Linked DNA regions of Homo sapiens: region 1 is linked to region 2. Evidence: fine-mapped expression QTL. A gene starts in region 2. The other region holds a variant in brackets. All regions are shown on one strand. Distances are from middle to middle. Region 1 holds the start of LOC124904610 (a long non-coding RNA gene). Region 2 holds the start of BTBD2 (BTB domain containing 2).

Region 1 (5,363 bases), 29 kb before region 2:
AGTGTTGCCCTAGCTCCTGGTGGGTGGCCCTTCTGGTGTCTTCATTAGAAGCCCAAGGTGTTTCCTTTTAATATGTATTTTTTTAGAGATGGGGTCTTGCTGTGTTGCCCAGGCTGGTCTCAAACTCCTGGCCCCTAGCAGTTCTGCCTCAGCCTGCCAAAGTGCTGGGATTGCAGGTGTGAGCCAGCACGCCCGGCCCCCAGGGTGTTCGACAAGGCCCCCTACCCCGCCAGCCTCCATCTCCATTGCCTGCTCCCAGCACTGCGCACTGTGGAGATCTGCTCAGCCTTCAGCCTCCTGGCAACTGTTTGCGGCTGGCTTTTTTTTTTTTAGACGGAGTCTTGCTTTCTCGCCCAGGCTGGAGTGCAATGGCACCATCTTGGCTCACTGCAACCTCCATCTCCCAGGTTCAAGCGATTCGCCTGCCTCAGCCTCCCAAGTAGCTGGGATTACAGGTGCCTGCCACCATACCTGGCTAATTTTTGTGTTTTTAGTAGAGATGGGGTTTCACCATGTCGGCCAGGTTGGTCCTGAACTCCTGACCTCAGGTGATCCACCCGCCCGGCCTCCCAAGGTGCTGTAATGACGTGTGAGCCACCACGCGGCCTTGCTGCCGGGTTTCTTGATGTCTTGCCCTGCACGTGTGCTCCTGAGGCAGCAGCCAACGGCTTGACTTCTCTGGCCACTGAGGCCACAACTGGGCACTCCCTGCTTTCTCTCCATCTCTCACATCCACGGTCCCCCAGCAGCCAGCAGGGCCTCCCCACGGGGAAATCGGCACACACGTCCATTGCATTTGGGTTTGGGGGGAGGTGTTGAGTTAGTTAGGGTCTTGCTCTTGCCCAGGGGGGAGGGCAGTGGTGCATCACTGCTCACTGCAGTCTCGACCTCCCGGGCTTCAGTGTGGCCTGTGGGTACTTAAGGAGGGTCTCGCAGCACTGGCGACCAGACCCGGGGTTCAGGGCCCCTCTCGGCGCACGACATCCCTCGCCCACTGCAGCCCGGATGACAGGGCAGAGAGTGAAGGGGAGCAAAGCAGTGTGCGCTCAAGGCAGGTGCATTTGTTTCTTTATTTAAAAAAATCATCTGGGGGCATGGTCTGAGGAGGACACCCCTCCCATGGCTTTGGGGAGGACGCAGGTTCCAGGAGTCACAGGGCAGAAACACGCGGGGTGGGTGGGGGCGTGGCCGGAGTGGGGAGGGGCTGTGCCCCCAGCACCTGGGGGTGGCTCCCACGGCACCAGGTGGGCTAGGGCAACAGTATGTACAGGCGAGCAGTGCTCCTGGACCCGGTCGGGGCCGGCTGGGGCCCCATTCTGCGGCAGGGGAGCTCTGGGGCACAGGGTCTGAGTCCCATCTTGGGCTGCAGGGACCGCGAGGGCCGTCCAGGGAGGCTGGACAGCGGGGGCCTTTATCTGGGCCCATCAGGTGGATGAGAACGGACACTGCAAACCGCTCACCACCTGGGCCAGGGCTAGGCCTATCCGGCAGGGGCCGTCCCCACACTGAATCCTGCGTGCGCAGAACTCAAGCCGGCATCCAGGCAGTGGGAACGCCCCGCAGGCTGGGCTTGGGTGGCCTCGGGCACGTGACAGGTGGGGCCCGTGTCCTGATAAACGGACAGGAACAAAAGGAACGCAAGGTCTGGGACCCACGGCTCTGGGAGCAGCGCCACCCAGGCTGGCTCCTAGCAGAGAAATGGGAATCGCAAATGCATTGCAATGTGCAGTGAAGAGACGCGAGGGACGCCCGCGGCGCACCGCCGGCAGACGACGTGGGCAGGCGCCCTGAGCTGCGGGTCCGTGGGCCCTGGCCCAGGCCGGCACAGCCCTGTCCCTAGTCCTGAGGGATTGTCTCCACAGGGCCTGGCCACTGGCCTGGCCACCTCCCCGGCTGCCCTGATCCAGCAGCCACACTCGTGGTGAACACAGGGCAACCCCGTCCTGATGCTGAGAAAGGTGGCATGGAGTGGACAGACGGCCTGGGGGACACTGGGCCTGGCACCGCGTGGTGGGGGGGCCCCAGCAGCAGATGATGGCCTGGGGCTGCGGCTATCCCCACGGAGGGAGGGCGGTGTCGGTGTCGGGCAGCCTAGGTGTAGAAGATGACCTCGGGGATCTGGCC[G/A]TCCTCCACGGATGTGCCATTGTTGTTCCCGGCCGCGTAGCAAAAGGTGAAGCAGGTCTTGGCGCCCGTGGTGGGCGACTCGTGTGTCACCTTGCGCAGGCCTTTGGTGCCGTAGTGGGAGTCTGGGCCCTGTAGGGAATAGGGGTACAGTGAGGTCAAGGACCACCAGGCTGGGATGCCCCAGGTGTGGACAGGGCAAGGCCCCGACTGGGCCAGGGTGGCTGCCTCTGGAGAGTGTGTGCTGTGCCCCGGTGGCTTCAGGATGGGCCAGAGACTCCCACGGAGGGACCCCTGTCCCCGGCGGCGCACCTTGAGCGTGGCACAGGCCGTGTAGTTGACGTTGGGCAGCACCTCCACCGGCTCCTTGAACATGACGCGGAAGGTGCTGGCTGAGCCGTCGCAGCTGAAGCCCGTGTCGTTCTGGCCCAAGACGGTGTTGCTATCGGTGTGAATAATCTGCGGGGAGGTGGGAAGTGGGAGGCTCAGGCCTGGGGAGGGCCAACGGGGACCCCTCGAGGCCCAGCCCACCTGCCCAGGGTGGGGGCAGCACAGGGACCAGGGCCGGGGGTTCAGCCAGGGTTCCATGGAGGTGGAGAGAGGACATGGGCCTGAGTGGGGCCTGGGGATGAGGCTTGGGGCTGGTACCTGGATGTTCACTTGGTAGTCGGTGGGCCCGTGGATGGATCCATACAGCCCAAATCCCACCACGAAGATGCGCTTGTTGACTGAGAACCTGCCGTGGCAGATGACAGGCAGCAGCGTGGATACCCAGGGATAGCCTAAGGTGAGCTGGGGCGAGCCCACCCCCATGCCCGGTCCCCTCCATCGTCCCTGAGTCCTCCACCCCCATGCCCGGCGGCCCCCCCGCCGTCTTCATCATCCCTGAGTTCTCCACCCCCATGCCCGGCCCCCCATCTCCGTCATCCCCGAGTCCTCCACCCCCATGTCCGGACCCCCCCGCCTGCACCCCAAGCCCCACCTGATGCGGTCACTGGTCCCGCTGTAGCCCCAGCGACTCTCCACCTGCTGGAAGCGGTTGATGCTGCACTCCTTCCCACGCAGGCAGCAGCGGGGCCGGTCAATGAACTCCACTCGTGGCTTGGGGTTGACGGTGAAGTGCAGGAAGAGGCTGACCACCTCGCGGTCCACCAGGATGCCCGACTGTGCGGGACCTGCAGCACAGGGAGGGTGTGGGGGAGGGCCGGGCTGCACCCCAGGATCCCGAGTGCCTGGGAGGACACGCTCCTTCCCCCTAAGATGTCTGCGTCGGACTTTCAAGGTGCAGGGACCTGGGCAGCCCCTCCCCGGGGGACTAGCCACCAGCCATGGCCCCTGCTGCCTGGGCTTTTAGGGAGAGGTCCCAGGGCACAGACCAGAGGCCGACAGATACGCTCACTCAGGGGCGATGCCTCAGGGTCTGACAGATGCACTCACTCAGGGGTGATGTCTCAGGGTCTGGCCCCACTGTAGGGACCACCCGTCACTTCACTGTGGGTGGGGGCGGGGGGCTCCACTGCCTGTTCTCTCAGGGCCATTGGCTGGGAGGGGTCACTGTGGCTCCCTGCTAGGCCTGTACCCCCCAGGCTGCAGCCCTGGCTTCTAGAAGCAGTCTGGGGGTTCCTCTCCACGGTGGGCCCTAGGCAGACACCTTCTCAAGCGCTTACACCCCCAGGGGTGATGGCTAGCGGACCCCAGGCAGACTCCAAGAGCCAGGCTCTTAATCCCGGTGCAGAGATGTCACAGGCAGAGGGACTGTGCATGGGATGTGAAGGGGCTCTGGGTAGGGAGGGGAGGCCAGGAGGGGCAGAATTGGGGGTCCACCATCCACCCCCAGGAGTGCCAGGACACAGCACCCTCTGCTCTAATGAGAGCAGCCCTGCCTGCCTGAGACCTAATCACTCATCAACCAAGGTGGGCTCAACTCCGCATCGCTCAGCTGCAAGCCAGCCCAGTGCAGACACAGTTTAATAACTGGTGAGAAACAGACCATTATGGGTTAAGTGAATCAGGAAGACTGAGTATCAAAACTCAATAAACAATGTTAACAATTTTTTTTTTTTTTGAGACGGAGTTTCGCTCTTGTCCCCCAGGCTAGAGTGCAGGACGGAGTTTCGCTCTTGTCCCCCAGGCTAGAGTGCAGTGGCGTAATCTCGGCTCACCGCAACATCCGTCTCCAGGGTTCAAGCAATTCTCCTGCCTCAGCCTCCAGCATAGCTGGGTTTACAGGCATGCGCCACCATGCCCAGCTAATCTTGTATTTTTAGTAGAGACGGGGTTTCACCCTGTTGGTCAGGCTGGTCTCAAACTCCTGACCTCAAGTGATTCCCCCCATCTTGGGCCTCCCAAAGTGCTGGGATTACAGGAGTGAGTGACCCAGCCTGGCCAACAATTGTATATATTTTTTTATTTTAAATGGAGTTTCACTCTTGTTGCCCAGGCTGGAGTGCAGTGGCGCGATCTCGGCTCATCACAACCTCCACCTCCTGGGTTCAAGTGATTCTCCTGCCTCAGCCTCCCGGGTAGCTGGGATTACAGGCATGAGCCACCACACCCAGCTGATCAACAGTTGTATTTTTAAGAAGTATGTATCTAGCCAGGCTCGGTGGCCCATGTCCATAATCCCAGCACTTTGTGAGGCCGAGATGGGAGGATGGCTGGAGCCCAGTTCATGACCAGCCCAGGTGACATAGCAAGACCCTGTCCCCACAAAAAAATACAAATATAAGCCTTGTGTGGTGGTGGCACCTGTGATCCCAGCTACTCCGGAGTCTGAAGCAGGAGGATCACTTGAGCCCAGGAGGTCGAGGCTGCAGTGAGCTGTGATTGTACCACCGCACTCAGCCTGGGCGACAGAGACCCTCTTGCTAAATCTGGCGACCTTCAGCTAAGCAAGAGCGGGGGCCGCGTGGACCTGGGGAAGGCCAGACGGCGAGTGTGCACCAGCCCCAGGGCTCTGTCCCAGCCCCTTCTGGAAAGTTCCAGGCCTGTTTTGCTCCAGAGCTGGATGGCGTCAGGCAGTGAGCAGCCACGAGGGCAGGAGGCATCGTTAGCGCTGCCCCTTCACGTCACCCTGGAACCCAGGCCCTGCAGCAGGGGACCCCAAGGCCCACTCGGGCGCATGACAGCCACCCCGGCCATGTCAGAGCCCTCCTGAGCTCGTCACAGACACTGGTACCTGCACCAGCAGGTAGCACAAGGGCGCGAGACGGGGACTCCCTTCCCTCCTGGGAAGATGCCAC
Region 2 (5,363 bases):
AACCCTCCAGGGGCAGGAACCTCTGCTAAGTACCGCCCAGGGCAGGACCCCACGAAAGGAGACCCAGCTGCCCATAAACACCCAGGAAGAAGCCAGAACACGTTAACAAAAGCACCCGAAGGTCAGAAGGGAGGGCAGGACCCTCCCCCTCCAGTGCCCGCAGCAAGAAAACCCAGCCCCTGCCCCCGACCAATGAGGGGCAGGGTAAGAGGGACCGGGGAGTGGAGGGAACCTGGGGCCTGGGGCCGGTACCCCGCACACTGGCAAAGACAGATACTGGGCCAAACCCACTTCTTTCCCAGAAAGGAGGGCTGGGGGCTGGGGAGGGAGGGACCCCGGAGCTGGGGGTCTCTGGGTTGGAAGGGCCCGGAGATGGGAGTCTGGGCAGGGGTCTAGGGTGGTGGCCTGGTGGCAGGGGATCATAGGATGGGGTGCAGGGGGTAGCAGGGCCCAGGGGAGACAACCTTCTGCAGAGTCCAGGGTCCAGAGCCTGGCAGTGGCGGAGCTGGAGGTGGGTGGTCACTGAAGTGGGAGGTGGCAGGGCCCAGGGGTCTCTGGCTGAGGTGGGGGTCCGGGGCTGGAGGGGCTGTGGATGGTAGTCTATGATCTGGACTGCAGGGCGGGCAGGGGGTATCCCTGGAGGGGAGCAGCATGGTTTGAAGGTCTCTGATCCAGATCATGTGCTGAGCCTGGGGGTCTCCGGTGGGGGTCACTGGGTCTGGAGGCAGCAGGGAGGACGCAGGGAGCAAGGCCTAGGGGTCTTGGCGCACAGGGGTGCGGGTGGGAGTGGCAGGGTCCCTGGATGGTGGGGGAAGAGGGAGGGGTCTTGTGGTCATGGGTGGGGGTGGAGGAAATAGCACGACCCCTGAAGGGAGGGGTCCTGGAGTTCAGGAGTCATAGGTTGGGGGTTACGGACTGAGGTGGTGAGGACTGGGGACGGGGGGTCTCAGGTGAGAGCGGAGAAGTCTCTCCATCCTGGGATGCAGGGGTGACACACTTGAGTGTAGTGGGGTCCCAGGGGGCCCCGGGAGTAGAGAGTGGAAGGGCAGTGGGCAGGGGTGAAGGACCTGGGGAAGGAGGGGTCCTGGAGAGTCCCTGGGTACAGGGACGGAGGGGTCACCAGTAGGGGTCCCAGGGGGAGAGGGGCGGCAGGCAAGGGTGCAGGGCCTGGGGATGGAGGGGTCCTGAGGATCCCCGGGTATAGGGATGGAGGGGTGTGGCATGTGGGGTCATGGGTCCTAGAAACAGTGGGTTGGGGTCCTGGGAATGGAGGAGCAGATAGGGGTACACGTCCCAGGGTTGGAGGGTCACAGGAGTCCCAGGGGTGGTGGGTGGGGGTGCAGGGCCAGGGCATGGAGGGGACCCAGGGATGCAGGCCAGGTGGGGTCCAGGGATGGAGGGGCCTGGGGTGTAGGCAGGGGTTCCAGCCGGAGGTGGAGGGGCCCAGGGATCTGGGGGCAGAGGTGTCTGGGGACCTGGGGTGCAGGGAGGGGTGAGGTCCAGGGATGGAGCGTCCTGGGGATGGAAGAATGGAGGGTCCTAGGGTGCAGGCGGGGGGTGGAGGGCCCTGAGGATGGGGTATTCAGGGTTCTGGGGTGCGGGCTGGGTGGGGTTTGAGGATGGAGGGGCCCAGGGGCTCCAAGTGCAGGCCGAGTTGGAGGGTCCCAGGAACGGAGGGTACCGGAGTGCAGGCTGGGTGGGTCCAGGGACGGAGGAGAGCAGGGGTCCCAGGGGTACAGGGCCTGGGATCCCGGGGAACAGGCTGGGGGCGCAAGCCAGAGGTGGAGGATCCAGGGGGGCCTGGGGATGGAGGGGTGCAGAGGCCCAGAGTGCAGGCCTGGTGGGGTCTGGGGACAGAGAGGTGCAGAGGCAGGGACAGAGGGGTGCAGAGCCCAGGGAACTGGGTGGAGTCTAGGGATGGAAGGGTGCAGGCCCCGGGGTGCAGGCCGGGTCGGTTTCAGGACCGGAGGGGTGCAGGGGTCCCAGGGACAGAGGGGTGCAGGGCCTCAGGTGCAGGCCCCGGGGTGCAGGCCGAGTTGGGTTCGGAGCCTGAGGATGCAGGGGTGCAGGGGTCCCGGGGACAGAGGGGTGCAGGGCTCGGGGATGGAGGGGTGCGGGGGTCTCGGGGACAGAGGGGTGCAGGGCCTCAGGTGCAGGGCCCGGGCAGCAGGCTGGGTGGGTCGGGGCCAGGGCTGGCGGGGTCGGGGCGCCCACCTGTGCGCGGGGATGCGCTGCGAGCTGAGCCCCTTGCCCACCAGGAAGTGCACGTCGCACAGCACCTCGTTGTTGAAGAGGAAGGCGAAGCGCTCCTGCACGGTGGGCTTGCTGGCCTGCCAGTTGTACGCGGCCTCGCGCTGCAGCGCCGCCGCCCCCGGGCCCGCCGCCTCCTCCGCCCGCTCCGCGCCCGCGGCCTGCGCGTCTGTCCCGGGGCCCGGCGGGGCGGGCGGCGTCGGCCCAGGGGCGGCGGCGGCGGCGGCGGCGGCGGCGGCGGCGGCGGCCGCGTTGCCGGGGGCCGGGGTGGCGGCGGCGTTGGCGCTGGGCCCGGGACTGCCCCCCGTGCCCGGGCCGACCCCGACCCCCGGCGGGCACGACGCACGCCCGCCGCTCCCACCCGCCGCCATTTTGTGGCTGCGGCGTGGGCGGGGGAGGGGAGGAGGGAAGGAGGGAGGGGAGGAGGGAAGGAGGGAGGGGAAAGGAGGAGAGTAGGGGGAGGAGGGGGAGGAGGGAGGGGAGGGGAAAAGAGGAGGGAGGGGAAAGGAGGGGAGGAGGGAGGGGAGGGGAAGCGGGAAGGAGGGAGGGGAGGAGAGGGAGGGGAAAGGAGGGGGAAGGAGGGAGGGGAGGAGAGGGAGGGGAAAGGAGGGGGAAGGAGGGAGGGGAGGAGAGGGAGGGGAAAGGAGGGGGAAGGAGGGAGGGGAGGAGAGGGAGGGGAAAGGAGGGGGAAGGAGGGAGGGGAGGAGAGGGAGGGGAAAGGAGGGGAGGTGGGAGGGGAGGAGGGAGGGGAGAAGGGAGGTGAATGGGGGAGGCTGTTGCAGGGGAGGGGACGGGGAGGAGAGGGAAGAGTAGGAGGGGCCTGTAGAGGGGAGGAGCTGGTGGAAGACCTCTTGCTCCACTCCCTAAGCATCCTGACCTGAAGCCCAGACTCCAGACCGAGGTCCAGAATTTGGGGTCCAGGCACCAGGCCCCAGACTCCAGACCGGGAATCCTAAACCCTGGAGCACAGACCTCAGTCCGGGATCCCAGGCCTCAGACCTTGAATCCTAGATCCCAGACTCTGAACCCCAGACTTCAGACTCCGGATTCCAGATCCCATACCTCAGACCCGGAACCCCCAACCCAAAGACCAAGCGCAAACTCCAGACCCCAGACCCCGGACCCAGGTGGCGGGCCTGCTCCGTGGCGCAGGCTCCGCTGTACAGAGACATAGCCTGAGGCCGGGAAGCTGCGGATGAGCGAGCAGGATGCAGGCCACGTGCACTGACACTCAGCAGACGCCCAGCACCCTCTCCAGGCCAGGTGTGGGGGGTGGTCAGTGTGGACGGAGCTGGGACTCCCCCAAAACGCTTACTACATACATAATGTCAAGGTAGACAAATGCCACAAAGATTGAGGAACCAGGTCGGGCGCAGTGGCTCACGCCTGTAATCCCAGCACTTCAGGAGGCCAAGGCGGGGGGTGCATCACCTAAGGTCAAGAGTTGGAGACCAGCCTGGGCAACATGGCAAAACCCTGTCTCTACAAAAAATACAAAAATTAGCCAGGCGCGGTGGCTCACGTCTGTAATCCCAGCACTTTGGGAGGCCGAGGCGGGCGGATCACCAGGTCGGGAGATCGAGACCATCCTGGTGAAACCCCATCATGGTGAAACCCCATCTCTACTAAAAATACGAAAATTAGCCAGGCTTGGTGGCGGGTGCCTGTAATCCCAGCTACTCGGGAGGCTGAGGCAGGAGAATCACTTGAACCTGGGAGGCGGAGGTTGCAGTGAGCCGAGACCGCGCCATTGCACTCCAGCCTGAACAACAAGAACAAAACTCCGTCTCAAACAAACAAACAAACAAACAAAACAAAACAAAAAAAAAACTAGGCGTGGTGGTACGCACCTGTTGTCCCAGCTACTCAGAAGGCTGAGACGGAAGCATCACTTGAGCCTGGAAGGTTGAGCTTTTGATGAGCTATGACTCCACCACTGCCCTCCAGCCTGGGCAACAGAGCAAGATCCTGTCTCGAAAAAAAAAAAAAACAAAGAAGAAAAAGAAAATAGGGTATTAAAAAAACCCAAGTGATAATGCTATTTTCAGTTCTCCAGAGTGGGTGGTTGAGGTAGTTACAATTTTTTTTTCTTTTTTCTTTTTTCTTTTTAGAGTCTCCCTCTATTGCCCAGGCTGGGGTGCAGTGATGGCGATCTTGGCTCACTGCAATCTCAGCCTCCTGGTTCAAGCAATTCTCCCGCCTCAGCCTCCTGAGTAGCTGGGGTTACAGGTACCCGCCACCACGCCTGGCTAAGGCTAATTTTTTTTTGTTTGTTTGTTTTGTTTTTGAGACAGTCTCGTTCTGTCGCCCAGGCTGGAGTGCAGTGGCGCGATCTTGGCTCACTGTAAGCTCCGCCTCCCAGATTCACGCCATTCTCCTGCCTCAGCCTCCCGAGTAGCTGGAACTACAGGCGCCTGCCACCATGCCTGGCTAATTTTATATGTGTGTGTGTGTATGTATATACATATATATATATATATATATATTTTTTTTTTTTTTTTTTTTTTTTTTTGAGACAGTCTTGCTCTGTCGCCCAGGCTGGAGTGCAGTGGCACGATCTCAGCTCACCACAACCTCCGCCTCCCGGATTCAAGCGATTCTCCTGCCTCAGCCTCCTGAGTAGCTGGGATTACATGCACCACCACGCCCGGCTAATTTTGTATTTTTAGTAGAGACGGGGTTTCTCCATGTTGGTCAGGCTGGTCTCGAACTCCCGACCTCAGGTGATCCGCCTGCCTTGGCCTCCCCAAGTGCTGGGATTACAGGCGGGAGCCATCACAGCCGGCCTCTAAATGTCAACTTTCTTATCTCTCATCTCATACATTTGCAAAGTGACATCTTTCCAGCCAAATCCTAAAGAGGACATCTGTGCAGTCCCTTCTAGATGAAGGTGCAGAACAGGCATACCTGCCATGGTGACAGAAATTAACAAAATGGTAGGTTGTCTGAGGAAAGGGTGAACTTTACGGAATGCTGAGATGTTCACGATTTTTTTTTTTTTTTTTTTTTTTTTTTTTTTTGAGATGGAGTCTCGTTCTGCCACCCAGGCCAGAGTGCAGTGGTGCAATCTCGGCTCACTGTAAGCTCTGCCTTCCAGGTTCATGCCATTCTCC

Evidence for each region.
Region 1: its variant is fine-mapped to the expression of BTBD2 in visceral fat (GTEx, PIP above 0.99). The same link has a PIP of 0.9 or more in atrial appendage and uterus.

What each region holds. Positions count from the first base shown.
Region 1 is chr19:1,984,397-1,989,759 of GRCh38, forward strand. It overlaps BTBD2 (BTB domain containing 2), which reads right to left. Exons shown (of 9, transcript NM_017797.4): 6 at 3,104-3,296; 7 at 2,770-2,857; 8 at 2,434-2,580; 9 at 1,052-2,253. The coding sequence ends at 2,092. LOC124904610 (a long non-coding RNA gene) reads left to right here and starts at 3,296. Exons shown (of 2, transcript XR_007067086.1): 1 at 3,296-4,098; 2 at 4,562-5,363. The variant G/A (reference allele first, on the strand shown) is at 2,125.
Region 2 is chr19:2,013,083-2,018,445 of GRCh38, forward strand. BTBD2 (BTB domain containing 2) reads right to left here and starts at 2,632. Exons shown (of 9, transcript NM_017797.4): 1 at 2,215-2,632. The coding sequence starts at 2,621. It overlaps LOC107985278 (a long non-coding RNA gene), which reads right to left. Exons shown (of 4, transcript XR_001753845.2): 3 at 4,101-4,218; 4 at 3,263-4,012. RefSeq lists silencers at 2,229-2,278, 2,289-2,438.